3 separate regions of the Homo sapiens genome follow, and all the other regions are linked to region 3. Evidence: fine-mapped expression QTL. A gene starts in region 3. Each other region holds a variant in brackets. All regions are shown on one strand. Distances are between the middles of the regions.

What was found. PIP is the estimated chance that this variant, and not a neighbour inherited with it, causes the effect.
Region 1: its variant is fine-mapped to the expression of CLXN in prefrontal cortex (ROSMAP, PIP 0.95).
Region 2: its variant is fine-mapped to the expression of CLXN in neutrophils (BLUEPRINT, PIP 0.95).

The regions. Positions count from the first base shown.
Region 1 is chr8:48,793,736-48,804,271 of GRCh38, reverse strand. All of the region lies in intron 2 of LOC105375825 (a long non-coding RNA gene), which reads right to left. Among named protein-coding and RNA genes, the nearest start is that of CLXN, 64 kb to the right of the region's middle. RefSeq lists an enhancer at 4,654-5,216. The variant A/G (reference allele first, on the strand shown) is at 4,415.
Region 2 is chr8:48,767,579-48,778,114 of GRCh38, reverse strand. No RefSeq gene overlaps it. Among named protein-coding and RNA genes, the nearest start is that of CLXN, 38 kb to the right of the region's middle. The variant G/TG (reference allele first, on the strand shown) is at 5,019.
Region 3 is chr8:48,729,200-48,739,735 of GRCh38, reverse strand. It overlaps CLXN (calaxin), which reads left to right and starts at 4,468. Exons shown (of 6, transcript NM_024593.4): 1 at 4,468-4,642; 2 at 8,233-8,388; 3 at 9,092-9,196; 4 at 9,865-10,016. The coding sequence starts at 4,585. RefSeq lists an enhancer at 4,389-5,063.

The DNA.
Region 1 (10,536 bases), 65 kb before region 3:
TAAGTATGCATCTAAATATTACACTTCATTTTGCTTGCTTATGGACATTCTATAAATGAAATCCCACAAATTTGTTATTTTGTATCTGACTTTTTTTTTTAACTAAACACTATGCTATGTATTCATGTTGTCTTAATTGATCCTTTGCATTTAAGGAAAAGCATGCCCACAAATGGAAAGATGAGATGTGAGCAAGGATCCATGCAACAGAGTGACATAGCATGCAATATTCATGTTAAAGATGTGAAAACACCAAGGGAACAAAACTTGTAAACTTAAACAAATACCTGAATAAAAAAACAGCTTATGAATTGGCACTTAGAGAGTGCCTATGAGAGACAGACTTCTAATTTCTTCTAATTTATATAGTGACTTGATGGGACAGCATCATAAGCCACACTTTTTAGGGCAGAAGATAGAAACCTGGAAAAGCCTGGTCCCCCGCTCCAGGGCAGCGGTCATCTAGTCCAGGTGCACACTTCAAAGCCATGTTCTTACCCACTTAAACTATCATACGCTGTCCTCATAGAATCAAAGGGAACTGAAAAGATAGATCTCCTGCCAGAGGTCAGTGAGGGAAAGGCTGATGAATGATAAACAGAAACCAAAACTCAATTTTTATGTTAATTCAGTCTTCCCCATCAAACTAAATCATTTTGGACAGAACGGGCAAAACAAATATTGTTAAGAGGAAATTTAAGCCCAACAAGACCATAAGAAAAATGTGATTTGCTTCTAACTTTTCTCAATAGTAGTTTGAGCCTCTTGGCCAAAATAAATTATATACCCAAATAGATAAACTGTCTACACTTGTTGAACGAATGGGTGGCCAGGACCACTGCTCCACTGTGGGTCATCATGACTGCCTGTAGACAGGGGAGGAGACTAGAAAGATGACACCAAGAGCAGGAACGTGGGAAGTGAGTGTCCAGTTTGACTACAGACATGAAATCCTGCTGCAGAACTTAGGCAAGAATCCAAGGATGCTGTGCAAGTGCTTAGAAAGGAGACAGTGATCACTCAAGTCACCAGAGGTTTACAAAGAATAAGGAGCTATGCCAACAAGCCTGATTTCCTTTGTTGTCCAGCTGGCAAATCAGGGATACATGGCAAACAGGATTCCAAGAAGGCGTCTATCGGGGTCTCCTTCTGTCCTTTGGCATGTGGGTTGAAGAATGCAGGAGACAACGAGTGATAAATGTGATCAAGGGTACTGTGGAGGGCAGCTTCCAGTGTGAGTTCAGGCCTGTTTTCAGCTCAGGCTTGGCCACTCTTTTCCTTAACCATCTGGAGGAAGGAGTGGAAAGAAAACGTATTAAATTGCTGGGTGACCGGAAGCTGGGTAGGGAATGTAGCAGGCTGGATAGCAAGATGAGGACACCAAAACACCCCAAGTGTCTAGACTGGTGGGCTTCATTAAATCTTTAAATCTTAATAGAGATTTAAAATGCTTTACATTTGGTTAAAAGTTAAGAGAAAAAACAGAAAACAATGTTGCTAATATGTACATAGGGACACAAGGCCCAGCTTCAGCTCTTGGTAAAATATGTTAATGGTTGAATGGAAATTAAATATCAATCAATTTAGCCATGTACCTCCTCCTTGGATATTTCCAAGTCATATCCACTCATCAAGATTGATTCAAAAAGCCTTTTACATCATAAAACTTTTTGTGTCTTCCTGGCCAATGTGATCCTTCTGTCCTTTGTGTTATTAGGACATTTGTTACCATTTTCTTCCTAATACATTGTGGAAAACACCTTATGGGATCCCTAAAACCTCTGCCTGGTTTGAGGCCTTGACTCCCATTTTGAACATCTCTCAGTAAAGTAGCTGCTCAATAAATAGTTATTAAACGAAAGCTATTGTATGAGTGTAACAAAACAGTAGTGTGGTCTTGGGTCAAGTTGATATAAATGCAGTGTCTGGACATGGGCCAAGAGGGTGAATTGAGATTAGGGCACTTCCAAATGGAGGTAATTGGGGTTTGAGATCAGATGGGGGCAGAATTTGAAATCACTCCATAAGAGGAACAGTAGAAAGAACCAGAAGATAAGTTTGTTGGTGTTTTGGGTGTTTGATTTTAGCTGGAAAATAGAAGACTTGGGACAGAGAGAAGTGAGATATAACATGATCTTTATCTGAGCCATTTGAAGGACTTTCATGTGAAGGAGGGGTATTCTTTGCTCTGTTTTGATTAAGTGGGCAAACCAAAGGAAACCATATACACATAGAAACTTTCTAAAACTTTAGAATGGGTCAAGGATAGAATACGGTGTCTCAGTAAGTCATGAGTCCCATTTACTGGATGTTTTCAGAGTTGAAATACCATCTACAGATGGCATTATCTAGGCAATTGACTAGGATTTATTGTAGAACAAGAGCATATAACAGCCTATCATACAATCACCATCCTCCAACAGAGTGGCACATTTGTTACAAATCATGAACCTACAATGACACATCAGTATCCCCGAAGTCCATAGTTAGCCTTAAGGTTCACTCTTGAAATTGCATTCTATAGATGTTGACAAATGTCAAAAAAGTCTGTGTCTGGATTTATTGATTGCTTGATTGCCAGTAAATATCCAATTGTTCCAGCACCGTTTGTTCAAAAGATTATCATTGATTCATTGTGTTGCCTTTGCTCCTGTGTCAAAGTTGAGCTGACTATATTTATGTGGGTCTATTTCTGGGTTTTTCTATTCTGTTTCATTAATTTGTCCATTCTTTCCAATAATACCATGATATCTTGATATCTTGATTACTGAAGTTTTAAAGTAAGTCTCGAGGTCAGGTAGTGCCAGTCTTTCAATTTTGTTCTTCTTCAATATTGTGTTGGCTATTCTGGATCTTTTGCCTCTCCATATCAACTTAGAATCAGTTTGTCAATATCCACAAAATACTGGGATTTTGATTGTAGGATTTAAAAAGAAGTGACATCTTGCCAATATTGAGCCTTCCTATACATGAACATAAAATACTTCTCTATTTTTTATTTTTTTATTTCTTTTACCAGATTTTTCTAATTTTCCTCATAAGATGCTGTACATATTTTGTGAGATTTATACCTAACTATTTAATTTGTTGAGGTCCTAATATAAAGGATATTGAGTTCTTAATTTCAAATTCCAATCATTCATTCCCAGTATATAGAGAAACAATTAACATTTGGATCCTAACCTTGTATCCTGCAAACTTTCTATAATCGCTTATTAGTTCTAAAAGGGTTTTTGGTTGTCGATTCTTTGGGATTTTCTACATAGATGATCATGTCTTCTGTAAACAAAGATGGCTTTATTTCTTCTTTCTCCATCTATACATCTTTTATTTCCTTTTCTTGTCTTACTGCACTAGCTAGGACTTCTACTATGATGTTGAAAAGGAGTGGTGCCTGACAAACACTATTTCAACAGGTGACCAAGGTCAACATCTTTTTTTTTCTTTGAGACGGAGTCTTGCTCTGTTGCCCAAGTTGGAGAGCAGTGGTGTGATCCCAGCTCACTGCAACCTCCGTCTCCCAGGTTCAAGTGATTCTCATGCCTCAGCCCCCTGAATAGCTGGGATTACAGGCACAGGCTACCATACCCAGCTAATTTTTTGTATTTTTAGTAGAGACAGGGTTTCACCACATTGGCCAGGACGGTCTAGAACTCCTGACCTCAGGTGATCCACCCGCTTCAGGCTCCCAAAGTGCTGGGATTACAGGTGTGAGCCACCGCGCCCAGCTCAAGGCCAACATTTAAAGTGATATATCTTATTGATAGTATGTACCCTTGATATGATGTGATGAAAATGGCATTTTACCTCTGTGATCTTCGTCCCAAAACCCATAACGTCAGTCTAATCATGAGAAAAACATCAGACGGCATCTGCCAAAACAACTGTCCATTATTTCTCAAACCTGTAAATGTCACTAGAGAGAAGGGAGTTTGAGAAATAGTCAATCAAAAGCAGCCCAAGAAGACATGCTCACTAAAGGTAGAGTGTACCTAGTGTACCCTTGTAGACAGGATCCTGGAACAGAAAAGGGGCAGTAGGTAAAAGCCCAAGAAACCTGGATATAGTATGGACTTGTGTTACATAATTTATCAATATTGTGATAAATCATAATTTATCAATATTGTGATAAATCATAATTTATCATTAATTTGTGACAAATAAACCACAGCTACATAAGATGCTAACAGTAAAAGAAATTCTATATGGGAGCGGGAGAGGCATATGGGAAGTCTCTGTGCTATCTGCTTAATTTCTTCATTAATCCAAAGGTGTTGTAAAAAAATAAAGTGAATTAATAAGAAAGGTGGGATCTCTGAAGTAATAGAACTGCTCAGCATGGGGGGAGGAGCCAAGATGGCCGAATAGGAACAGCTCCAGTCTACAGCTCCCAGCATGAGCGATGCAGAAGACG[A/G]GTGATTTCTGCATTTCCATCTGAGGTACCGGGTTCATCTCACTACGGAGTGCCAGACTGGGCGCAGGTCAGTGGGTGCGTGCACCGTGCACGAGCCGAAGCAGGGCGAGGCATTGCCTCACTTGGGAAGCGCAAGGGGTCAGGGAGTTCCCTTTCTGAGTCAAAGAAAGGGGTGACAGACGCACCTGGAAAATCGGGTCACTCCCACCCGAATATTGCGCTTTTCGGACTGGCTTAAAAAACGGCGCACCACGAGATTATATCCCGTACCTGGCTCGGAGGGTCCCACGCCCACGGAGTCTCACTGATTGCTAGCACAGCAGTCTGAGATCAAACTGCAAGGCAGCAGTGAGGCTGGGGGAGGGGCGCCTGCCATTGCCCAGGCTTGCTTAGGTAAACAAAGCAGCCGGGAAGCTCGAACTGGGTGGAGCCCACCACAGCTCACGGAGGTCTGCCTGCCTCTGTAGGCTCCACCTCTGGGGGCAGGGCACAGACAAACAAAAAGACAGCAGTAACCTCTGCAGACTTAAATGTCCCTGTCTGACAGCTTTGAAGAGAGCAGTGGTTCTCCCAGCATGCAGCTGGAGATCTGAGAACGCACAGACTGCCTCCTCAAGTGGGTCCCTGACCCCTGCCCACCGAGCAGCCTAACTGGGAGGCACCCCCCAGCAGGGGCACACTGACACCTCACACGGCAGGGTATTCCAACAGACCTGCAGCTGAGGGTCCTGTCTGTTAGAAGGAAAACTAACAAACAGAAAGGACATCCACACCAAAAACGCATCTGTACATCACCATCATCAAAGACCAAAAGTAGATAAAACCACAAAGATGGGGAAAAAACAGAACAGAAAAACTGGAAACTCTAAAACGCAGAGCGCCTCTCCTCCTCCAAAGGAACGCAGTTCCTCACCAGCAACGGAACAAAGCTGGATGGAGAATGACTTTGACGAGCTGAGAGAAGAAGGCTTCAGACGATCAAATTACTCTGAGCTACGGGAGGACATTCAAACCGAAGGCAAAGAAGTTGAAAACTTTGAAAAAAATTTAGAAGAATGTATAACTAGAATAACCAATACAGAGAAGTGCTTTAAGGAGCTGATGGAGCTGAAAACCAAGGCTCGAGAACAACGTGAAGAATGCAGAAGCCTCAGGAGCCGATGCGATCAACTGGAACAAAGGGTATCAGTAATGGAAGATGAAATAAATGAAATGAAGCGAGAAGGGAAGTTTAGAGAAAAAAGAATAAAAAGAAATGAGCAAAGCCTCCAAGAAATATGGGACTACGTGAAAAGACCAAATCTACGTCTGATTGGTGTACCTGAAAGTGATGGGGAGAATGGAACCAAGTTGGAAAACATGCTGCAGGATATTATCCAGGAGAACTTCCCCAATCTAGCAAGGCAGGCCAACGTTCAGATTCAGGAAATACAGAGAACGCCACAAAGATACTCCTCGAGAAGAGCAACTCCAAGACACATAATTTTCAGATTCACCAAAGTTGAAATGAAGGAAAAAATGTTAAGGGCAGCCAGAGAGAAAGGTCGGGTTACCCTCAAAGGGAAGCCCATCAGACTAACAGCAGATCTCTCGGCAGAAACCCTACAAGCCAGAAGAGAGTGGGGGCCAATATTCAACATTCTTAAAGAAAAGAATTTTCAACCCAGAATTTCATATCCAGCCAAACTAAGCTTCATAAGTGAAGGAGAAATAAAATCCTTTACAGACAAGCAAATGCTGACAGATTTTGTCACCACCATGCCTGCCCTAAAAGAGCTCCGAAGGAAGCGCTAAACATGGAAAGGAACAACCGGTACCAGCTGCTGCAAAATCATGCCAAAATGTAAAGACCATCGAGACTAGGAAGAAACTGCATCAACTAACGAGCAAAATCACCAGCTAACATCATAATGACAGGATCAAATTCACACATAACAGTATTAACTTTAAATGTAAATGGACTAAATGCTCCAATTAAAAGACACAGACTGGCAAACTGGATAAAGAGTCAAGACCCATCAGTGTGCTGTATTCAGGAAACCCATCTCACGTGCAGAGACACACATAGGCTCAAAATAAAAGGATGGAGGAAGATCTACCAAGCAAATGGAAAACAAAAAAAGGCAGGGGTTGCAATCCTAGTCTCTGAAAAAACAGACTTTAAACCAACAAATATCAAAAGAGACAAAGAAGGCCATTACATAATGGTAAAGGGATCAATTCAACAAGAAGAGCTAACTATCCTAAATATATATGCACCCAATACAGGAGCACCCAGATTCATAAAGCAAGTCCTGAGTGACCTACAAAGAGACTTAGACTCCCACACATTAATAATGGAAGACTTTAACACCCCACTGTCAACATTAGACAGATCAACGAGACAGAAAGTCAACAAGGATACCGAGGAATTGAACTCAGCTCTGCACCAAGCGGACCTAATAGACATCTACAGAACTCTCCACCCCAAATCAACAGAATATACATTTTTTTCAGCACCACACCTATTCCAAAATTGACCACATAGTTGGAAGTAAAGCTCTCCTCAGCAAATGTAAAAGAACAGAGATTATAACAAACTATCTCTCAGACCACAGTGCAATCAAACTAGAACTCAGGATTAAGAATCTCACTCAAAACCGCTCAATTACATAGAAACTGAACAACCTGCTCCTGAATGAATACTGGATACATAACGAAATGAAGGCAGAAATAAAGATGTTCTTTGAAACCAATGAGAACAAAGACACAACATACCAGAATCTCTGGGACGCATTCAAAGCAGTGTGTAGAGGGAAATTTATAGTACTAAATGCCCACAAGAGAAAGCAGGAAAGATCCAAAATTGACACCCTAACACCACAATTAAAAGAACTAGAAAAGCAAGAGCAAACACATTCAAAAGCTAGCAGAAGGCAAGAAATAACTAAAATCAGAGCAGAACTGAAGGAAATAGAGACACAAAAAACCCTTCAAAAAAGTTAATGAATCCAGGAGATGGTTTTTTGAAAGGATCAACAAAATTGATAGACTGCTAGCAAGACTAATAAAGAAAAAAAGAGAGAAGAATCAAATAGACACAATAAAAAATGATAAAGGGGATATCACCACCGATCCCACAGAAATACAAACTACCATCAGAGAATACTACAAACACCTCTACGCAAATAAACTAGAAAATCTAGAAGAAATGGATAAATTCCTCGACACATACACTCTCCCAAGACTAAACCAGGAAGAAATTGAATCTCTGAATAGACCAATAACAGGAGCTGAAATTGTGGCAATAATCAATAGTTTACCAACCAAAAAGAGTCCAGGACCAGATGGATTCACAGCCGAATTCTACCAGAGGTACAAGGAGGAACTGGTACCATTCCTTCTGAAACTATTCCAATCAATAGAAAAAGAGGGAATCCTCCCTAACTCATTTTATGAGGCCAGCATCATTCTGATACCAAAGCCAGGCAGAGACACAACAAAAAAAGAGAATTTTAGACCAATATCCTTGATGAACATTGATGCAAAAATCCTCAATAAAATACTGGCAAAACGAATCCAGCAGCACATCAAAAAGCTTATCCACCATGATCAAGTGGGCTTCATCCCTGGGATGCAAGGCTGGTTCAATATACGGAAATCAATAAATGTAATACAGCATATAAACAGAGCCAAAGACAAAAACCACATGATTATCTCAATAGATGCAGAAAAAGCCTTTGACAAAATTCAACAACCCTTCATGCTAAAAACTCTCAATAAATTAGGTATTGATGGGACGTATTTCAAAATAATAAGAGCTATCTATGACAAACCCACAGCCAATATCATACTGAATGGGCAAAAACTGGAAGCATTCCCTTTGAAAACTGGCACAAGACAGGGATGCCCTCTCTCACCACTCCTATTCAACATAGTGCTGGAAGTTCTGGCCAGGGCAATTAGGGAGGAGAAGGAAATAAAGGGTATTCAATTAGGAAAAGAGGAAGTCAAATTGTCCCTGTTTGCAGATGACATGATTGTATATCTAGAAAACCCCATTGTCTCAGCCCAAAATCTCCTTAAGCTGATAAGCAACTTCAGCAAAGTCTCAGGATACAAAATCAATGTACAAAAATCACAAGCATTCTTATACACCAATAACAGACAAAGAGAGAGCCAAATCATGAGTGAACTCCCATTCACAATTGCTTCAAAGACAATAAAATACCTAGGAATACAACTTACAAGGGATGTGAAGGACCTCTTCAAGGAGAACTACAAACCACTGCTCAAGGAAATAAAAGAGGATACAAACAAATGGAAGAACATTCCATGCTCATGGGTAGGAAGAATCAATATTGTGAAAATGGCCATACTGCCCAAGGTAATTTATAGATTCAATGCCATCGCCATAAAGCTACCAATGACTTTCTTCACAGAATTGGAGAAAACTACTTTAAAGTTCATATGGAACCAAAAAAGAGCCCGCGTCGCCAAGGCAATCCTAAGTCAAAAGAACAAAGCTGGAGGCATCACACTACCTGACTTCAAACTATACTACAAGGCTACAGTAACCAAAACAGCATGGTACTGGTACCAAAACAGAGATATAGATCAATGGAACAGAACAGAGCCCTCAGAAATAACGCCGCATGTCTATAACTATCTGATCTTTGACAAACCTGAGAAAAACAAGCAATGGGGAAAGGATTCCCTATTTAATAAATGGTGCTGGGAAAACTGGCTACCCATATGTAGAAAGCTGAAACTGGATCCCTTCCTTACACCTTATACAAAAATCAATTCAAGATGGATTAAAGACTTAAACGTTAGACCTAAAACCATAAAAACCCTAGAAGAAAACCTAGGCATTACCATTCAGGACATAGGCATGGGCAAGGACTTCATGTCCAAAACACCAAAAGCAATGGCAACAAAAGACAAAATTGACAAATGGGATCTAATTAAACTAAATAGCTTCTGCACAGCAAAAGAAACCACCATCAGAGTGAATAGGCAACCTACAGAATGGGAGAAAATTTTTGCAACCTACTCATCTGACAAAGGGCTGATATCCAGAATCTACAATGAACTTAAACAAATTTACAAGAAAAAAACAAACAACCCCATCAAAAAGTGGGCGAAGGACATGAACAGACACTTCTCAAAAGAAGACATTTATGCAGCCAAAAAACACATGAAAAAATGCTCATCATCACTGGCCATCAGAGAAATGCAAATCAAAACCACAATGAGATACCATCTCACACCAGTTAGAATGGAGATCATTAAAAAGTCAGGAAACAACAGGTGCTGGAGAGGATGTGGAGAAATAGGAACACTTTTACACTGTTGGTGGGACTGTAAACTAGTTCAACCATTGTGGAAGTCAGTGTGGCGATTCCTCAGGGATCTAGAACTAGAAATACCATTTGACCCAGCCATCCCATTACTGGGTATATACCCAAAGGACTACAAATCATGCTGCTATAAAGACACATGGACTCGTATGTTTATTGCGGCACTATTCACAATAGCAAAGACTTGGAACCAACCCAAATGTCCAACAATGATAGACTGGATTAAGAAAATGTGGCACATATACACCATGGAATACTATGCAGCCATAAAAAATGATGAGTTCATGTCCTTTGTAAGGACATGGATGAAATTGGAAATCATCATTCTCAGTAAACTATCACAAGAACAAAAAACCAAACACCGCATATTCTTACTCATAGGTGGGAACTGAACAATGAGATCACATGGACACAGGAAGGGGAATATCACACTCTGGGGACTGTGGTGGGGTGGGGGGAGGGGGGAGGGATAGCATTGGGAGATATACCTAATGGTGGATGACGAGTTAGTGGGTGCAGCACACCAGCATGGCACATGTATACATATGTAACTAACCTGCACAATGTGCACATGTACCCTAAAACTTAAAGTATAATAAAAAAAAGAAAAAAAAATTATTAATAAAATTATAACTTAATAAAAAAACAATTAATAAAAAGGCTCTAACAGAATTTTAGCTGTGTGGTGGGGTATAAACCTTACTTTAAAGGAATCCAGTTAATAAATACTCAAGCTTTTAAAAGCAAAAAAAAATAAAAGAACTGCTCAGTATCTTAACT
Region 2 (10,536 bases), 38 kb before region 3:
GAGATCCATAGGCCAAGTAACTAACCAATAACTCTGGCTGCTCAGATGGCCTCCAGGATGTCCCCTGCCTCACTGTGTGCTGGGACATCATGTCTGCAGCTTCACAAGACAGACCACACTCTAACAAAGACTTCCGCCTTAGACGGCTTGTCCACAGGGCAGTGAGACGGTCCAGCCAGCTGCTTGGTGGAGTGCAGTCATGGGCAGCATGGGCAGCTGAGCCCAGATAAGAGCTGGGGGAGTGAGATGTTCATGTCGGATTTCAGAGGTGGCAGCACCAGACTGACGGTGAACCAGTAACTGTGATGACAGCACATTCACAAACCCCCCTGAATTTACTACGGGGTTGAGAAAATGCAAAGAAACCCCCTCCCTGGTGCAGGAGCAACTGTTCTGTGGGTAGCGATGGAGATTGCAGGAAACAGGGCATTCCGACTCCTGCACCAAGTGTCCAGAGCCCTTCCTTGCCCTTGGGGGACAGTTATAGAATAATCACCCACAGTAAGATTGCACGAATGCATGAGTAAATTAAGAAAAGTCTGTGTGACATAGGAGAGCCTTTCAACGAAGCCATGAGACACATCGCCAAACTCTTCCAGTGTATAAAACCACCAGCTGGCTAGTAAACAGCCCCTGAAGTCAAGACTTGGGGTAGTAGTAAATAGTGGTCACATTTTATTAAACAGCTCAAAATTTTTGTTGAAATGATTGCCTTATATAAAAATAAACACATCAACTCTATAATTATGCATGATGGCTTTTATTTTACGTTTCCCTTAAAAGAGACTGAATTCTGGACCCAACAAACAGATCGTTATGAAATAATGTTCCACACCCTTTGTGGTTGAATAAGAGAAACGGTTATACACAATTTCCATTTCATAGTCCCCCCAAAACTAAATGTGCATTTTCCAATATTCCTTCTGCTGCAGAGCAGAAAATGTATATCTGAGTGCACAGGCATTTCAGCACCACCAAAATATTCCATGCCTGATGGCAATTACGTAACTGTTACCAAAAAAATCCCATGGTATTTTAAAGATAAACTGTGATGATTTCCTCTAGCAATCTCCCATAATCACATGTGTCACCAAAAGGAACTATGTTTTTTAGAAACAATCTATTAATTAAAATTATACTAATTCAACAATATTAAGTGACTATATCAAAAGACAAACTTTTTTTCTTTTTGAAATAGAGTCTTGCTCTGTTACCCAGGCTAGAGTGCAATGGCATGATCTCGGCTCACTGCAACCTCTGCCTCCCAGGTTCAAACAATTCTCCTGTCTCAGCCTCACGAGTAGCTGGGATTACAGGCACACACCACCACACCGGAATAATTTTTGTGTTTTTAGTAGAGACAGGGTTTCACCATGTTGGCCAGGCTGGTCTCGAACTCCTGATCTCAAGTGATCCACCTGCCTCGGCCTCCCAAAGTACTGAGATTACAGGCATGAGCCACTGTGCCCAGCCAAGACAAACTTTTGAGATAACAAGAGAATGGGGTAGATTATGTTTTGAGATGCTGGTTTGCTTGTTTGTGTTTAAATAAAAGATAGCAAAATAACTCATCTGGACTCTTTCTGATACTTAGTGTAATCTTGTTACCAAGTCCAGGAAACAAAGGTCAATAGAGAAAGAAGTGTAAAAGGTCCTCAGTAGTGGGAACTTGTTGAATTGGAGAAGAAGGACATAAGATTAAAAGTATCTAACATGGAGCTTGGGAAAAGAGGGAGAATGGAAGAAGCGGAAGGGAATGAAAAGTGTCCATCAGTGTGGGCCTGGGAAGTCTGAGTGAGGTCTTCTCACGCCAGCATTTTCCGCGCTGATCTATCCACTCATGTCTGCGACCCTGGCTCTGCCCACAGAGGACACAGCTTCCCGAGAAAGAGAAAACACGATAAAACACGATAAAGAAGATGATTTTTAGGATATCTAAAAGAGAGGCCTCATATTTCAGCTGCTGTTTAAAAGCTATTCTCTCAAGTGCTGATGTCTTCTAGAGTATCAGTTCTTTGAAGGAGTCTCCTTATTGTTCAATCCCCTTTTCACGTTTTAGACTCAAGACTTAAAATGGAAAGGAAATAACCCACAAAATATAAGCAACTTAAATGCTGGTTTTAAGACAATGTATCTACAAAAAGCAATTCTGTTTAGAGATTTTATATTATTCATAAAATAAAAAGCTCTGTTTACTAATAATAAACCACTCCAACTTTATGTATTTTTTTAATGGTCAGCCTTTATTTGACATTCTAAACCCTATAAATTTGGGATGGGCTGGTAAATTCAATCCACAAATTTAAAACTGTGTTATAATACTATAAGCATTATATCCTACTTAGAAGTGAAGGAGCCAGGATTTGAACCCTTGCTTATCTCAATGGAACCAGGTGCCTATCTCAGTTTATATGTTCTAATAAATTGATCTATTCAAGTAAAGTTATAATTTTCAGCCTGTGTATTTTTTTCTCTGGTGGAAAACTGCACAGTACGAAATAGTTCGCTTTAAAACTAGTAGTAAATTTCTGGTTAAAAACAAGATGTTTAATAGAAGCTTTAATAATGAATATAATGTTATTGATTGGCTTTATATGAAATTAACCATATTGCATGAGCTAATTCATCACCTGCTGTCCACTGTGTGACAAGATGCAAATGACACAGTAGATGCTGACCTTCAAACGAAGTCAGTGACAAGAAAGGATGGCAAAACATATCCAACTATGGGATGGAAAACACCCAAGACCTCAAAGCAACCTCTACAATAAACGTTTGCAGAATAGTTCTGGGGTCTCTGCTGGGGCATCTTGAAATAAAACATATTGAGGACAAGAAAATATTTTTTAACTTTTTTATGCACACAAGGAATGAATGACTTAGTATTATTGAAAATATATGCAAAATTCAAACCTTTTTAAAGTGAGTTGGGAGGTTGTTCAAAGCAATTTGCTGTGTAGCCTTCGAGGAAGAAATGCATCAGTTTATTAAAAAATTATTACAGCCTCTACTTAGACATTGTAATAAGTATGGTAGTTGGTAGAGGGCTATATAGTCATTTTCTGATAATAAAATGAATACTCCAAAAAAATTATAATACCTATTGAGTTAGTTTGATATTTAAGATTATGTGATATCGTCAAAGTTCAAAAGAGCACAAATATACAGATCTCTTTTTTCTGGCATTTTTAGACAAATGCAGACAAACGTGAATATATCCTATTTTGCTAACCTTTTGACATGGATACAAAAGAAGAAAGAATTTTAAGAATTTATGCTAATTTTAAAAACGTAATCAATAAGTTGGCAAAAATGTTATGTGCTGATGGTCTGAAAGCTATAGCAGGAAGAAACACAAAGGCTACCGGTCCCATAAAAATCTTCAGAGTAATCGACTTCTCTGTATATAGAAAGATATTTTAAAACACCAACTGTAAAAATGATGGCATCTTTCAAGACACTATTGAATAATACTACACAAATTGTCCTTTTCATCATAGCTATGGTCTTTGAATGTTATACTTTTTATTTTCTAATGATCTTGTTTGTTAGTAATAGATCCTGTTGCTAAGAAGTTTGAAAACATTGAGAATGTAAAGTTTTATGATGTCTATGATGAAACATCACTTACTGAAAGCATTTCTTCAGGAAGACAATCAAATGAGATAGCTAGATTAGCTATAATAATAGAGCTAGGGTATATCAGCTATTCACTCTGTGCCAGGCACCACGCTAAATGCTTTAAGCTGGTCATTTCATTGCATAATCACAAAAGTCTAATGAGGTTGGGGGTCATGTATTCCCACTTTACAGATGAGGAAACAGAGGCTTTGATGGCTTCAGTCACCTTCCTGGCCAGCTGAAGCAGGAGGAAGCAGGGAGGGCTCACCTAGGGCTTTTTCTAACCCCCGCCCTCCACCCCTTGAACTCTGCCTTCCCGCAGCGCAGTGGCTCTGGTTCCGTGTTTGCCACAGTGCAGGCAGAGCAATCAAGGGTCACTGCATGTCACCTCTCTGTGAGGTGTGCCAAAAGTTATTTGTTAACTTTGTTAAGTAGTAGAGAATCGCCAAGTTCTGTAAATTAGAAAGTATGCAGTTCTCCCTGTGGTAAACTCACTCTCCTCTCCAGTGTGTTCCCACGTGCTTCTGAGCAGAAGTAGCAGAGCTGCAGCTGGCTGGATAGCACCTGCTGTGCAGCAGGAGTGATCCACAAGTATAAATCATACGTCCATGCGTGTCACCACAGAAAAACAGGCCACGCAAACACTGCTGGAAACCAGCAGGCAGGGTCCCAGGACAAACACTTCAGTGCCACAGAGAAAGTGCAGGTAAGCTCCCCTGGGGTGAGTTGTCAAAGGTCTGTCACCTGGACTTTGACAGGCTCTGAAGCACAGGTCACTCAGGTGTGAAATTCTACATGGATTCGGGCCGGGTGCGGTGGCTCATGCCTGTAATCCCAGCACTTTGGGAGGCAGAGGTAGGCGGATCATGAGGTCAGGAGATGGAGACTATCCTGGATAACACAGTGAACCCCGTCTCTACTAAAAATACAAAAAAAATTAGCAGGGCGCGGTAGCGGGCGCCTGTAGTCCCAGCTACTTGGGAGGCTGAGGCAGGAGAATGGCGTGAACCCGGGAGGCGGAGCTTGCAGTGAGCCTGAGCCGAGTTGGCGCCACTGCACTCCAGCCTGGGCGACAGACCGAGACTCCATCTCAAAAAAAATAAATTAATTAAATAAAAACAAAATAAAAAAAAGAAAGTCTACATGGATTCAACATGGGCCTTTTTATTAAATGCCAGTACAGCAGAACAAAATAACAATCTGCTATTCTACACAGCAGGTGGCAAACATAACGAAATCATGATGCTAGGAGATGGAACCCATGAAGAGGTTCAATAAGGGTAGGTACACTTCATGTGCGACTTTATTTAACCTATGTTATAGCACACTTTTCTTATTGTAAAATTGAACTATTATTTTCTTTCTTTTTTTTTCTTTCTTTTTTTTTTTTTTTTTTT[G/TG]AGATGGAGTTTCCCTCTTGTTGCCCAGGCTAGAGTGTAATGGCGCGATCTCGGCTCACTACAACCTCTGCCTCCCGGGTTCAAGCGAGTCTCCTGCCTCAGCCTCCCCAGTAGCTGGGATTACAGGCACCTGCCACCACGCCTGGCTAATTTTTTTTTTTTTTAGTACAGACGGGGTTTCACCATGTTGACCAGGCAGGTGTCGAACTCCTGACCTCAGGTGATCCACCCACCTTGGCCTCCCAAAGTGCTGGGATTACAGGCCTGAGCCACCATGCCCAGCCATCATTCTCTAGATTCACTAAAAGTTATTTTTCAAATCTTTAAAGACATTCACAAATGTAATATATGGATTCTATAAGCATCTTTTAAAATAATGTGTGTGTGTATATATGTATGTATATATACCTATATATATACATACATATATGGATTTTCCCATGTCTCTTATGCCTTCTTTTTCTCTGATATATACATGTATGTATCTTCTGCCCCCTTCCCCAACTTCTGTCACTCTCCCTGCTGTTCAAATTACTTTCTCTGTTATTTGAATAGAAAGGTTTCTTTGTATAAAATTCTGAAGCGTTTATTTTGTCTTTCCTTGTGTATCTATGCCTTAACAATTTTCCTCTAACAAGTCGCTTTCTGATAACACTGCTGAGTATCATTTACATAATTAGGGTATTGATTAGAACTAATAGAGCAAAGGATGAAAGACAGCCATTTGTTACTTAAGGAGGAGGGGTGAAGAGTAAGGAAGATGGTAGTACCGATAATGTTGCCCGATTGGTAGCTTTCAGACAAGAAATAAGTTTTGACAGAAGAACTATCCAATGAGAGTGAAAATATACTCAATGTCCATCAACTACATATACATTTCACAGAGTTCATAATTTATTGAAAATATTCTCCTACCATAAAATAAACTTCAGAGAAACACAGTGAGCTTTCTTATGAATTAATCCTAATGCCTGAAGTCCTAGGAGCTGTGAAATAAAGAAAATAAATAAAATTATGTAAACACATAATATTGCTGAGCAACATGGCTTAGCCCTTAAACAACTTTTTCTTGTTTGAAAGATTTCAAAAAGAAACTACTGTGAAATTTATGTAGGTATTCACCCTATGGGTAGCGCTATGATATTTTAATGAACAATTAGACAGAATGGTGACTGAAGCCAATCACAGAGAGTCTTCAGGGCCATCCCTTCCTCCACTTCCTCATGGACAGGAACAGGAGCATGCACACACACACACAAGTGTGTGAATGCTGACTTAGCTAAGGTGGATCCTTGACAAATATTCTATTTATTTTTAAAAATCTAAATGTATTTATGCATTGATGAGAATTTAAAAATCTCTCTCTTGCTTCTCTTGGTTTGTAAAATCCAGTGCATGTTTTCAATATACAATCGGCACTATTTAGTTTAGACTGGCAGAGATACCCATAGGGACTGGAGGCACTGCCTACAAACCTAAGATGGGGAATCATTACAGATAAAATATGACTGGATCCAAACCCCTTCCCTAAGGGATGCTGAAGCCAAACCAAAACTGCTTTGAAGAGCATAATAAGGAAAAACTGGGTTAGCTTTGGGTTTTGCTGCTTTTAAATCATCATTAATCTGCAGTATCTGCCCTTCTGAATCCTTATAATAGCTAGGTGCTATAAGAGAAATGCCAGACCCACCAAAAGTTGACCAGCAAACACTTGTTGAGTGCCTACCACACACCATGTACAAACAAACCAACTAGCAACTCCTTGGGGGTCTCTGAAACAGGTAATGCTTGGAATCCTGGTTGCAACAACATGGAATATTCTGCTTAATTACAAATGCTGGTGTCAGGAAATGGTTTTTTCCACTTCTCCTATTCCTACAAGTTTCCTTTTTCTCCTACAGAAAGGAGTCTTGTAGCTTGGCACACTGCTTTGAGAAATCTGTGATCATACTTGTAAATAATTACCTATTTGCCCATCAAGGAACTCTTGTGTAGGAATCCACGGATGGTCAGTTCGCCCATCTGTAAACATGAAAGACGGATCACCCAAAGACAGAATTGAAAACCACACGTGGCTGGTACCCAGAAGAGAAATAGAAAGTCAGCATGGCATATGCTCAAATGGGTAACATCAGCCGGGACGTGATGCTCATTCCAAGACACCCTCTGCATTTCCAACAATTCTGCCCGAACTATTCACAAGTTCATTCACAAAGATGAGCCCAGATGTGAAAGTGGCTGAGCCAGGAGTCACATTGGCTGAAAAGTTTGCTTTTTGTCTAAAAATAATTAATAAGCACACAAGTTAATACAATAAAAAAGGTATCTAGACAGTACAAACCCACAAAATAACCACTGTTGAGAATGAGGGGTTTAATGAGAGTGAAGGTAGTTCTGTTTTCAAAGTCTCCTCCTCTTGCAGCCCTGTCCTCTGATGTGTAGTGACATGTGTGCCTCAACCACCATGAATGACACTCCCCTTTGTGTTGCTGGACCCTCCACTACTTAGTGTGTAAAGTTGTTGCAGAACCAAATGTAATGCACCTAACACATAGCTGGTACACAGCAGGGTACAATGTGCCATGAGGCTACCTTAGCAGGAACACCTCCCCTGTCTTCCTCACAGGACACACTGCATACATCCACCCATCTAGGCAGAGGTGGTCTAGTCAGGAATGGGCATGTCACCCAATTCTGGGCAATGGGAGGATGAGGCACCCTCTGCTAGGGCCAGCCTCCAGATACAGGAGAGAGACAAGGCAAGATGCATGCTCCCTCACCTGCCTGGGGAGTTGTGCCTGGAGTTGACAACTGGGGATGAATGTTGTCACCTGAATACTAAGAATGGCAGTGCAGACAGAAGGAAAGGACCTGCATCTTGATAATGCATCTGCACTGTCTATGTGCCTTACCTCCAAAATTCTTGTTATATGAGTATTCAAGCAAGGTTTCTATTATCTTTGCCAGAAAAAGCACCCTAAATGATTCAATAAGCACTTAAATGTGAATGTGGGGAGGAGACGTCAAGAGGAGTGGTCACAACTGTTCTAAGAACCATAAAAACTTCATTCAACAGCATGGAATCTACTCCGAGAGCACCAGACGCACAGTTCATTCAGGTATGTATAGAACTGTTCCTCATTCCCTCCCAACCCCAGGCTCCAAAACTGTCAAAACAAAGAGCCCCCAATTCAGACCTTTTGTTGTTAAAGATATGGAGCACTATTATGAGGTCACAGTCACATCAAGCAGGAGTCTCCATCCCCAGCACCAAGAGACAGCTGTCATCAGTGAAGGACCCCGCAGCACCTGGCATGGGAGTTCCAGGCATTCCCCATAAAGCAGGGCTTGAAGGATTTGCACTTGGTCAGAAAATCATTTTTTAAATTAAATGAAAATATTTATTTTGAAGTAAGTGTAAATTCAGATGCAGTTACAAGAAATAATACAGGCAAATCTCACACATATTTGTCCAGTTTCTCCAGCATTCATGTCTTGCAAAGCTATGGTACAATGCCACCAGGATGTGGATGTTGATACAATCAAGATTCTGAGCACTTCCATCACCACAACCATGCCTCCTATTTCATTTTTTAATAGGATCCATGTCCCTCCCCACTGCTCCCATCCTTAATCCCTGGCAAGCACTAAGCTGCTCTCCATCAATATAATTTTGTCAGTTCAATAACATTGAATAAATGGAATCACGCAGTGTGTAACCTTTTGGGATTGGCTTTTTCTTTGTTTTATATATTTCTCTGGATATTCATGTAAGTTGTTGCTTGCATGAATAGTTCATTCCTTTTTATTGCTGAGTACAATTCCACGGTGTAGATGTACCATGGTTTCTTTAACCATTCACTTGCTGAAAAATATTTGGGCTGTTTCCAGTTTGGGGTTATTACAAATAAATCTGCCATGAACATTTGGCTACAGGTTTTTGGGTGAAATGAAAATAAATTTTCACTTCTCTGGGATAAATGCCCAGGATTGTAATTTCTTGTTGGTATGATAGTTGAGTGCTTAGTTTTTTAAGAAATTGCCCAGCTATTTGCAAAAGTAGATGTGCCATTTTACATTCCTACCTGTCATATATGAGACCCAGTTTCTCTGCATCCTCATCAGCATTTGATGTTGCCGGTATTTTTTATTTTAACCATTCTTATATGTGTAGAATGATCTCTCTCCTGTGGTTTTAATTTACATTCCCTCATTGGCCAATAGTGTTGAGAACAGCTTCTCATGTGCTGATTTGCCATCCACATATTCTATCCAGTGAAATTTCTATTCATGACTTTTGCCATTTCTAATAATTTTGGGGGGTCTTCATTGCTTTTGGGTTTTGAGAGTTATAACCTTGTTTCAGCTATTATATTTATTTTATTTTTCTATATACATTTTAGAATAATATTGTCTATATCTACAAAAAATCTCACTAAGATTTTGATAGGAATTGTGTACGTGTATATCAATTTGGGTAGAGTTGGCACCTTTACTTTGTTGAGTCTTTCAATTCATAAACATGGTATGTCTCTCAATTTATTTAGATCTTCTTTGACTTCTTGCATCAGTGTTTTGTAGGTTTCTCTACACAGTGCATGTTTTGTGTGTATTTTTGTAGTTTTGTATCTTTAATTTTGTAGTCCACGTGGTAGTACAAAGAAATATTAGTATGAAGAGATATTATTAGTATAGAGAAATATAGTTGATTTTTGTATGTTGATTTTGCATCCTGTGAACTTGAATTCACTTAGTTCTAAGAGTTTTTTTGTAGATTCCTTGTTTTTTCTAAGGAGACAATCCTGCCATCTGTAAAGAGGAAGAATTGTGAATTTTTTCCTTTCTGGTATACATGCCTTTGATTGTCTTTTCCTGCCTTATTTCAGTGACTATACCTTCCACTGCTATGCAGGATTAGAGCAGTGAGAGCAGACATGCTAGGCTTCTTCCCAGTCCCAAGGGAAAGCAAGCTGTCTTCCACCACTAGTATGTCAACTGTAGCATTTTTGTAGATGATCTTTATGTGAGATTTTCAAAGTGTTCCTGTATTCCTATTTTTCTGAGAGTTTTTATCCTGAATGAGTGTTAAGTTTTATCAAATGCTTTTTCTGAATCTATGCACATGATCGTGTGATTTTTCTTCTTAGCCTGTTAATAGGGCATATAACTTTGGTCAGTTTTTGAATATTGAACAGCCTAGCCTCCACACTAGGTTATGGTATATAATTCATTTTATACATTTCTTATTTTGATTTGCTGATATTTTGTTAGGATTTTTGAGTCAATATTTAAGGAGGATAGTGGTCTACAGTTGCTGTTGTTTTGTTTCATCTGATTGTGATTTCAGTATGATGAATTGGGTAGGGTCTTTTCCTCTCCTATTTTCTGGAATAGGTAGTTTAAAATTTATACTAATTCTTCTTTAAAGGTTGGATAGCATTCTCCATGGAAACCCTCTGCCTCAAGATTTCTGGAAAGGAGTAGAGGTTTAATTACAAATTAAATTTTCTTAATATTT
Region 3 (10,536 bases):
GAAGAAAGGTGGAGAGTTGGCTTTGTGCAAAGATGGATCTGGTAAGGTAAACATTCACAGTTGAAATGAGTTTTGTTGGATATGAGTGAAAGGGGTTAGAGAGTGCAGGCTAATAAACAGAGTCTACTAAAGGGGTAACATGATTCAAGGTAGGCGATCTTGGGTGCTTCCTTTTCATTTAGGGAGCAAGAACTATGGAGTTGGGGGAAGTGGTTTAAACAATGGTGGCAAGTATCAGAAGTGATACCAGTTATTTTCTGGTTGACATTGGCTAAGAGGACCAGGCATTGCCTGGTGGGGTCTCTGGGTAGGTCAGGTCCTGTTCTGTGCTTAGTGATGCTCATGAATTCCCTGGTTAGGGCTCAAATGTTGCAAGATGCCCTGGGCTTGGTAAGAAAAAGGTGTGGGTATCTTCTGTCTCTGAGGCAGCTTTGCAGGTAGTACAGTTGCCATGACTCTGGCTACAGTGGCGCATGACCCAGTGCTGAGGGGATCAAGCCCAGCACATTCAGCAGGATTTCTTGGTCAGCTCTGCCAGGTCTCAAAGAGCCAGATTCTTTACCGAAAACTTCAGACCTGCTGACATTATGGCTATCATAATAATTAACTGTCACAGGCCACATCTTAATTTACAACTTTATAAATTACATGTTGAGATACAAGAATCCTATCCTTAGTAAACCTTAGGCATTTGTCTTACTGGCTGGTCACTTGATTACAGTAAAAAAAAAAAAAAAAAAAAAAGTCTAGAAATACGTCAACACCAGTGAATATCAAGTGTGAATTTTGGAGAAAGGTCAGTTTAAATGAAAGCTCTTCTATATTGCCCAGCTCCCTTTAAAGGCTCCATTGTGGTTACTGTACCAGGGACTCAGCCCCAGGGTGCTGCAGGGAAACCTGGGGTTCATTCCTGCTGGAGTGGTTCTCCTACCACTTTCCATCAATACAGACCACACAACATGGACCATGTGGTCAAATTTCAGAGGTACAGACAGATGATAAACAAACAAATGCAGAGATACAGCGAGTGAAATAGACTTAAATATATGGAGAGAGAGAGAGAGATCATGTGATTTAGTCTGGTGGGAAGGAGAGGTTAGAAAAAAACAATTGTTTCACACAGTAGCAAGTGCTAAAAAAATAGTATCAAGGAAGAGAATGGCTGGGTGGAGAAGGGTTCACTTCACTTCACGTAGGGTGTCAGAAAGAGCTCTTTGAAGAGTTGCCACTGGGAGTGGTTGGGGTGAAAAATATGCAGAAGTTGTGCATAAGACAGTGTTCTGTGGGTCTGAATACTGAGACTCTAGCTTGTCACCACAACCCTACAGCAAAGGGGAGAGTGACAAGTGGTAGAGATTTGGAGATTCGACCACCCAAACAACTGGTCACACATATAACTCTTATTTTTGTTATCGCTGTCTCCACAAAATAAAATTAGTAAAGTTGAATTTCTATTATGCAGGTAACTAACCTATTTCCCTTTTATTCAAGCAATTTTATAATAGATTTGTGATATACTTGGAGATCAATTCTATGATGTCATTTCCTCAACAGTTTCCAAAGGCCTTCATCATAAAAGGTCCACATTAAGGAAAACAATTTCATCAAGTCAAGGTCCAAGCTGTTTATCATGGCAACAATCCAGTGAATGCTGAGTCAAAGGGAAGATTGTTTTGCACACAAAACTAAAGGAAACATAGCATTAATAGTCACTTTAATGTACTTCTGTGTTTACAAAGTTATTCATCTTGAGGTTGCTTGGATTTTTGGAAAGTTCTATGATCATTTCATGCACAGTAAAATTTATGTCCAATACGAATTAAACACAATCCTTTATTATTCCATTATTGATTGATTTAATATGAAGTAGCCTCTTAGGCTTAATTGCCTTACTCTGAGAAAGCTCTTGGGGGAAAGCAGTCCTGTGTCTACTCAGCATAAGCAACTAAAACTACAAATAGAAACTTCAACTTGCTTTGAAATGTTATTCACTGACTCAATCAGGCCTGCAACTTGTTTCTAAAGTCTAAAAATATTAAGTTCCAAAACTTCACAAGAATGTAATGAAAGCTCTGAAGTTTACCCGTATGTTGACAAAACATACTCCAAATAAACATTGTGCTTTCCCTGAAAAAGATGATAAGACCTTATTGTAAGGTCAACTCTGCAAATCACTCTCTTAGATAAGTGAGATTCACAAAACAATGCATTTGCATAGATAGATAGAAAGATAGATAGATAGATGATAGATAGATAGATAGATAGATAGATAGATAGATAGATAGATTGGTTGATTTTTTTGGCTAAAAGAACTGCATGGAAGAAAGAACTGGAGGATAAAAGAAGTGGAAGAGGAGGAGGTGACTTACAAAGTTTGCTCAACAGGTTAAGGAGTTTTGGCCCGGCATATTTTAATTTCAACAATCTGTGATATTGCCCCTACATCTTTTTATTATTTTTTTAACTTTAAGGGAACATGGCTGATGGGCTCTAGGCCTTAAACTCGTGAAGGAATAACTAATTAGCTTACCTATAGCAAGCACCCGGTGTATGCGATCTCCCCAGGCCACCAGAAATAACCACCAATGTGCTCACCAACAGCGCAGGCCTGCTCCCCAACACAGGCCTAGTACATCAGGTGGGGAGCCCACAGCGTCTCTTAGTAATTACTGACAACCACTCTTTCGGTTCCTTGTCTCTTGAAGTGAGCAGTGCAGCAATCTCTAGGAATTAAGTATTTGCTACAGCTCTGTGATCCAACAGAAATCAATAAGGTGTCACAGGTAAGTATAATTCAAATATGTCCAGTCTTTCCCTTTTGTTCTCTATGGTCTCAGGAATTTCACTCTTCTAGACAAGGGGATATGTAGAAACACTATTTAAAAATACTACTGTTACAAACTCATAATCACCATCAATTCATATCGGGTAACTGTTGTTAGGACATTTGCTTTAGGATAACACAGTCCATGCCTTTACCAAGCACCCTTTGCTCTAGTTTCAAACAGCATCCCAATCCTTCATTCCACAAACAAATGAAACAGTAAAGAAAAACCAGAGGCCTCGACATTGGAATTATTTCATTTGGGATTATTACTCATGGTTAGTAGAATTTTTCTGCCTTCAGTCTAAAAATGCCAGTATGTGTACAATAACATAGTTTGTCATTTTCCCCTCTGAAGTTAAACGAGCAGGCACTCTGGAGAATACTGTAGATTTGGTGATCCTGGCTGAGCCACCCCTTTTTATTGCTGCCTTAGCTGAAAGAGGATATCCCCTCTGTGATCAGGAAAAGCAGAAAGTCCTCCCACCCTGAAGATGTAAGGAATATCCTTTGTCTGCCGGCACAGAACTTGTCTTTCAAATAAGTAAAGGACCAAGGTTGCTGAGATATTTTCCGGAAAAGCAAGATTGGGCTGTACCCCACACCCAAGTGGTGTTGTCAGCCCGTTTTCATTGGGGGGAATGCCTATTTAAGCAGTATAAAAATTCCTCGTGGCTTTCCTCAGATTCCACAGACAACCTCCATCTTTTGGAAGTGAGATGAGGGCAGTGGGAAAAGAAAAAAACTACAGTCACAAGCCACATAGCGCCATTTAAGTCAACATCAGACAACATTAGGACAGTGGTCCCATAAGATGTAACACTGTACTGGAACACTGCACCTTCCCCAGAGTGCTTAGCACTCTGTTTTAGCTGCCTGCAGCATTCCGCGCTGTGACCTGCTGTGCAGGGGTGCAGCCCAGAAGCAATGGGTTGTACCATACAGCCTGGCGTGCAGTAGGCAAGGCCATCTAGGTTTGTGTCGGTGCACCGTGATGTGCACACAGTGATGAAATCTCCTAGTGACCTCGGAACGCGTCCCGCTCCTTAGGCAACCCGTGGCTGTATTCCAATTTCCCCTTGCTCTCAGAAACACAACTAAAAGCTCGAAGACCTCAGGTGACAGACTGCCTCCTGTTACCTCACCAAGACTGAAAACCTAAGCAGTGGCTCCGCCCAAAGAGCAAGCTTCTAGCCCTCTGACGGGAGGCCCGGCAAGATCGTCCTCTGGACAGCACCTTGCTATTTTGTGACGCTGCTCCAGCCCCCAAGATGTCCAAGATCTTGGGCCTTCCCTTGAGGCGTGACGCTCACGACCCGAAACACCTCTCATACAGCGTGCACACCACATTTCAGATTTTAATGATTTACACTGCAATCAAGCAAAGAGGCTGCGAACTCAAAAGCCAGCAACAACTGAACATTTAAACTCCAACGTCAACAGTCAGAATACAGCCCTCAAGGCGGCCAGCTGGGACCCTGCCGGCGGCACCGCGCACCGAGAACCCAGCGCGAGCAGTCGCTGAGCCGATGGGCGGGGCCCAGCTGTAGCTTTGGCTACGTCGCGGGCAGCCTGGGAGCCAATCCGCGGCGGGCTGAGCCGTTGCCTTGGCTACACCGTCTGTTAGGGCCGCGCACGAGATCAGTAACTGAGACCTCACCGCGTTGACCCAGCACCAGGGCTCGCGGGGGTCCCGCGAGGGTCTCGGTAGCCGCGCGCCCAGAGACCCCCGCCGCGGCCCGATTCTCTGAGCGCCAGACATGAACCGCAAGAAACTGCAGAAGCTGACGGACACCTTAACCAAAAATTGCAAGCATTGTAAGTAAGAATGTAGTGCTGGACAGGCCGAGGCTCCTGGACCGAGCCTGGGTCCCACCCCGTGCTAAGGTCCGCTGTTGTGCCTGCTTCCCGCCTGCTGGGACTCTGTGGGCTACCTACCGCCCCTCCACCCCGGCCCCTTAAGCAGAAGTCAGAGAGGGAATCCCGGGGTGCCAGCTCCTTGCGTTTGATCTTAGGAACCCAGGCCTCCGCCTCTGGTGCTACCTACACTCCCACACATGCATTTACTTGCTTCTCCAACCCTCTTCTTTTACCTGATAGAAACATGTGATGTTAGCCTCAATGAGGTGTAAAATAAATGCTAAAACCAACTGGTCTCAAGAAAAGTAGCACCACCAAGGTAGACCGTGCACTCACCCTGCTTTATAGCTCGCACATACACCCGCAGGTCCAAGTTCTGGAAGCTTACCAAGAGACCCATAGGAGAAAACGGTGCTCAACTTCTCAACATCTTTCGGAGAGATGAGTTGTGTCATCTCATCTGTGCCTCAGAACAATATTTGTTTGGAAACCAGAGTTCAGCACAACTAAACACGTGGTAAAGAATGGGTTCCCAACTTTAGACTCCCACTTTCCAGTGGCCCCTGGTGTTGAAAGATAAAGGAGACTTTGCAGGTGACAAGATGAGCCCTATTTGAAGGCACCTGCTCTAATCTCGCATTTGAAAGGGTGGTCCTAGAATTTCATAGGAAACTTTGAGTTTATATTCAGACTGAAAAACATAATTGCACTTTAGCAAGGAAGCCGTGGGTATGGTTTAGATGAGGAAGATAATTTCCTGTCGAGCAAACTTAGAAGTTGTGTGTGCTAATTGCAAAACTACTGGCCACTTGAAGAAACAGAAGCAACAATCCCCCAAATAACCGAGTCGCTCAAAAAAGAAGGAATAAACATGTTGATGTAGTTTTAGAGATTGTAAGATCTAGTGCATTCTAATTATCATTAGTATCTGATTTAATACCTGGTAAGAAATGCTCTCTTAGTGGATGGTGATATAAATGAATATTATGGTGTGTGTACGCATCTTAAAATGTTTAGGAAAAAAATCCTGTAATTTAAGATATTATTATGACTACTATACTCTGATGAGGGTTTTGTTCTGTTATTGTTTTTCTTAAAACACTTTCATTTCTGGGAGAATAGGTATTCTTCTAGTAAACATCTAGTAAACATTTTTGATAAATATTCAAAAACAATGCAATAGCTGCTATACACAATACTGATTTTGTCCCTTTCCGTAAGTTTGAATTTGATTTAGTCTCTGTTCGGTAAGTTTGAATGCATTGCAGACAATCATTCTGTGAACAATCAAAAGGTGAGTGTATATTTTTAAAGGTAAGTAAAAATATGGCAGGAAAAAGTCTGCTCTTGATTTTTTTGTTTACTAAAAAATTTTCAATGAGTCTTACAAACTTAGATGATTATTAGTTAAAGTCTATAGAAATAGTTATACGTCATGGACATTATAATAATTTTAAATTTTCTTTAACGGAAGAACTTTCCCCTAAAGTTAAATTTTGTTTTAGTTGCAAGACAATAAAGCTATCAAGATTCAATGGATAAATTTTGTAGAATCAAAGAAGAGTGAAAGATCTTAAGAGAACATCTAGTTCATGCACTGTTCTACAGATATGTTCTGCAGGACACATTCACAGCATTCCAAGAAGATGAAAACCTATTCTTGAATTTTCTTGTTTCATTTAGTATTGTATTCTAGAATTTAAGAAATGTTTAGCAATAAAAGTTTTCTTATGGCTAACCTTTGATCCTTTGGGTAATAAATTAAACTAGTTTTTAAAAATTTTTATTTCAGCTGAGATGGAAAAATGGCTAACCAACATCCCCTCTGCTACCATTTTATGTACATGAACAGAGTACATCATTCTTCATGCAGGCTTTTCTTCCGCAACAACTAACAGCTCTTGCTTTTTAGGAGGTTTGTGTGTGTGTGTGTATGTGGTTACATATAACATGAAATTTACTATTTTAACCATTTTAAGTGCTTAATTTCATGGCATTAAGTACATTCACACTGTTCTGCTTGCAACACCACCATCCACCTCCGTAACTTGTTCATTGTTCCCAGTGGAAACTCTACCCATTAAATGTTAACTCACCATTCCCTCCTCATCCTAGTCCCTGGCAACTATCATTCTACTTTGTCTCTATAAATCTGACTAAGTACCTTATATAAGAGGAATCATACAATATGTGTCCTTTTGTGTCTGGCTTATTTGACTAAGTGCAATATCCATAAATGTTCATCTATGTGTCAGAATTTTCTTCCTTTTTAAGGCTGAATGATATTTCATTGTATGAATACACCACATTTTGTCTATCCATTCCTCCATTGATGGACTCTTGCATCTGTCTTTTGACTGTTGTGAATGATGACACTATGAACATTGTTGTACAGGTTCCTGCTTTCAGTTCTTCTGAGTATGTAAATAGAAGTAGAATTCCTGGATCACGCAATAATTGTGTTTAATTTTTATGAGGAGCTATCATACTGTTTTCCACAGTGACTAACAGCTGTTTTTGAAATCATAACCATTATATTGTTTCCTACTATTTATTTGCTGAATCTTTTTTCCCAGACTTTTTAGTGTTTCTCTTTAAATGTGGTTTTCCAAACCAGAAATCCCACAAATGCCTGTACTGACCTCTAGGATGAGGTGTGATTTTTCCATTCCTAGATGCTGTCTTCTGTTATACACACACAGGTTTTGTCCTTGTTTGTTAAAATGCTCAATCACAGTTTTGACTGGTTTCAAAATAAATTTTCCCCAACTTCCGCCCATACTTGGTATTTGAGCTTTTATATTATCAAGACCAGGCAATAACCCTTCCACCTACATTCTCAAATGGGGATTGGAACACAAATAATTAACTCGGTATTTATAACCATGGTCCTTTATACAATAATGTGTATGAGCAAGTATCTGTTTGTGTGTATATCCTTTAAATAAAAATTTCCTTCCTCCAAACTATTACTGAATAGTTGCATGTTAATTTTTACGTAATCCTCAAGAAGAGCCATATTGGGTGCTAAAATATGCTTTAAAGCTTTTTTATTGGAAAACTGGTGACTCTAGTTTCCAAAATCTGGCTTATGAATTAATGAAGGCTAAACTGAAATGAAAATTGTTACCTAATTCTCATGAATCTGACATCTATTTCCAGGGAAAAGAAGTTGTAAATCTCGTAAATGCCATGGTAAAAATACTGAGAAAAAGTTACCATTCTTTAGTCTTACCATTCTTATTTTGAGACGTATTTCTACTAGCCTTGTAGAGTTTAGAATCCGACACCACCATCATTATTCTAGTAACTTGGCTAATACTATCGTATTTTTTTCCCTAAACATGGGAATTCCTGTTTGGAGGGTATGCTGCTTTTTTTATTTCTATTAAGTTAAGGGTTCATGAATCTCAAAACAGGAGAGTCTTCTATTGACAATTACCTATTTGATGTCTTTGACGTTGTTTGTCTGTAAACTTATTGCAAAATTTAAGTTAGAACTTAAAGATTAAGGGTTCATTTTTGTTATATCTATTTTATTATTTCAGTTAATAAATTTGAAGTGAACTGTCTTATAAAGCTTTTTTATGACTTGGTGGGAGGAGTAGAGAGGCAAGGTCTGGTTGTTGGACTGGATCGTAATGCATTTCGAAACATCCTGCATGTGACATTTGGAATGACAGATGACATGATTATGGACAGAGGTAAGAGACACACAAGATTCAAATTAGCCAAATCCAGCCATAACTGAAAAAAAAAGGGTTTGGTGCTTGGACATCCTCTTGGTAGGAAGCTTAGTGTTTTGCATTCCCAGTGTCATTGGAATATACAAATTTAATTTTGAGAAGATCATAGAAAAGGAGGTAATATTGGCTTTATTTTGTGTATTTAAGAAGAAGACAAAGTCATGTTGACATCTTTCTCTTACCTTATATCAGAAAACCTAAAACATTTCGATTTCCACTTAATAAACATAATAAATAGAATAGTTTTAAAAGGACATTTACATTCTTTACATCATAGAAGATATTTCAGTGACAAGATATAATTCTATGCATCAAGTAATGACTTGAGTAACAAAACTATTAAGTATTTTATTTATATTCATATATTTATCTAATATGACCAACATATTTTATAGCAACATATTTATTATTAAATAATGATTAATATACTTAGACATTGAGAATTGTATTTGTTCCCACAAAAACATTTTAAAAATTGAATGTTTAATAAAAGAGTTTCATGATATTATGATGTCTTAGTTTCCTCTTTCGTCAAATGAGAATATTGGACTTCACAAGCTGAAGTGTTCTCTTAATTTTAAAAGTGAGTGATGCCAATGTAGATACTTTACTGAGAGTTATTATGCAGGACAGGTGTTCCATTTAACCTCTCTCCCTTTAGTATTCCGAGGTTTTGATAAAGATAATGATGGCTGTGTAAATGTATTGGAGTGGATTCATGGATTATCACTGTTTCTTCGAGGATCTTTGGAAGAAAAAATGAAATGTAAGATTGCAGGTTGTCCTATTGGTTCGTACATTATGAATAACATATCTAAAGCACTTAAATCAGTGTCTTTCAACCAAGACAGTAAAGTGGGTTTGTTGGTTGGCTGGTTAGTTGGTTTGAATCCCACTAACCTATTTTATGGAATGAATTCAAGTCAATAAAATATGAAAGAAAGTTAATAAAAAGAAAACTCAAGTGATTCTGAGGAGTAATTTATGCGAAGGAAGACACCATAGGCATTACTACATATGCTAATTATGTACATATACATTTATATGTTAAGCATTTGACAGATTTCATTACTTGAATTGTAACCATAAAACTAGAGAATATTGATTCAAGTGTTCTTATTCTTAATTAACTCTCAATTAATTCTGATGAACTCTGCTTATGAGCCATATTTCAATCAGTTTTCCAAGAGTTTCAAGGTGAAGATATTCAAGTTACTGTTCCTTGGTATGCTTTTTCATAATTGAGAATCAGGAAATATTTTCTAAGGATTATTGTATATATCCTAGTATACGTTGACACTTACAATGCAAATCAGGCTGCACTAAGACCTGTGGGTACAGCATCAAGATAGAACTTGGCCCTGAAAAGTTTATCAGAGAAAATATTACCTTACTGATAGCATCAAATTCATGATTTGTTATTTTCTTAAAAAGATTGCTTTGAAGTGTTTGATTTGAATGGTGACGGATTCATTTCAAAGGAGGAAATGTTTCACATGTTGAAGAACAGCCTTCTCAAACAGCCATCTGAGGAAGACCCTGATGAAGGAATTAAAGATTTGGTTGAAATAACACTGAAGAAAATGGTAAATATGGGTAATGTCAAGTTTTTTATTAAAATTTGTGGGCCAGATATGGGCTAGAAATAAGAATTCAAATTATTATAATTTTCAGTTCTCTGCTTGCTTAAATAAAACACATAAATTATGCTCCTCAACATATTAATAGTTCTTTTCAGTTTCACCACCTAACCTCTTATTTTTCTAGCACTTTTTTTTTTTTTGAGACAGGGTCTCGCTCTGTCTCCCAGACTAGAGTGCAGTAGCATGATCACAGCTCACTGCATCATCAAACTCTTGGGCTCAAGCAATTCTCCTGCCTCAGCCTCCCAAGTATCTGGGACTACAGGCGCATACCACCATGCCCAGCTAATTTTTTTTTTTAATAGAGATGAGGTCTCACTATGTTGCCCAGTATGGTCTCAAACTTCTGGCCTCAAGGAATCACCCCGCCTTAGCCTCCCAAAGTGCTATGATTACAGGCCTGAGCCACCATCCCCAGCCTAGCACATTTTTTTAAATTAACACTTGACTATGAAAAGAGCAT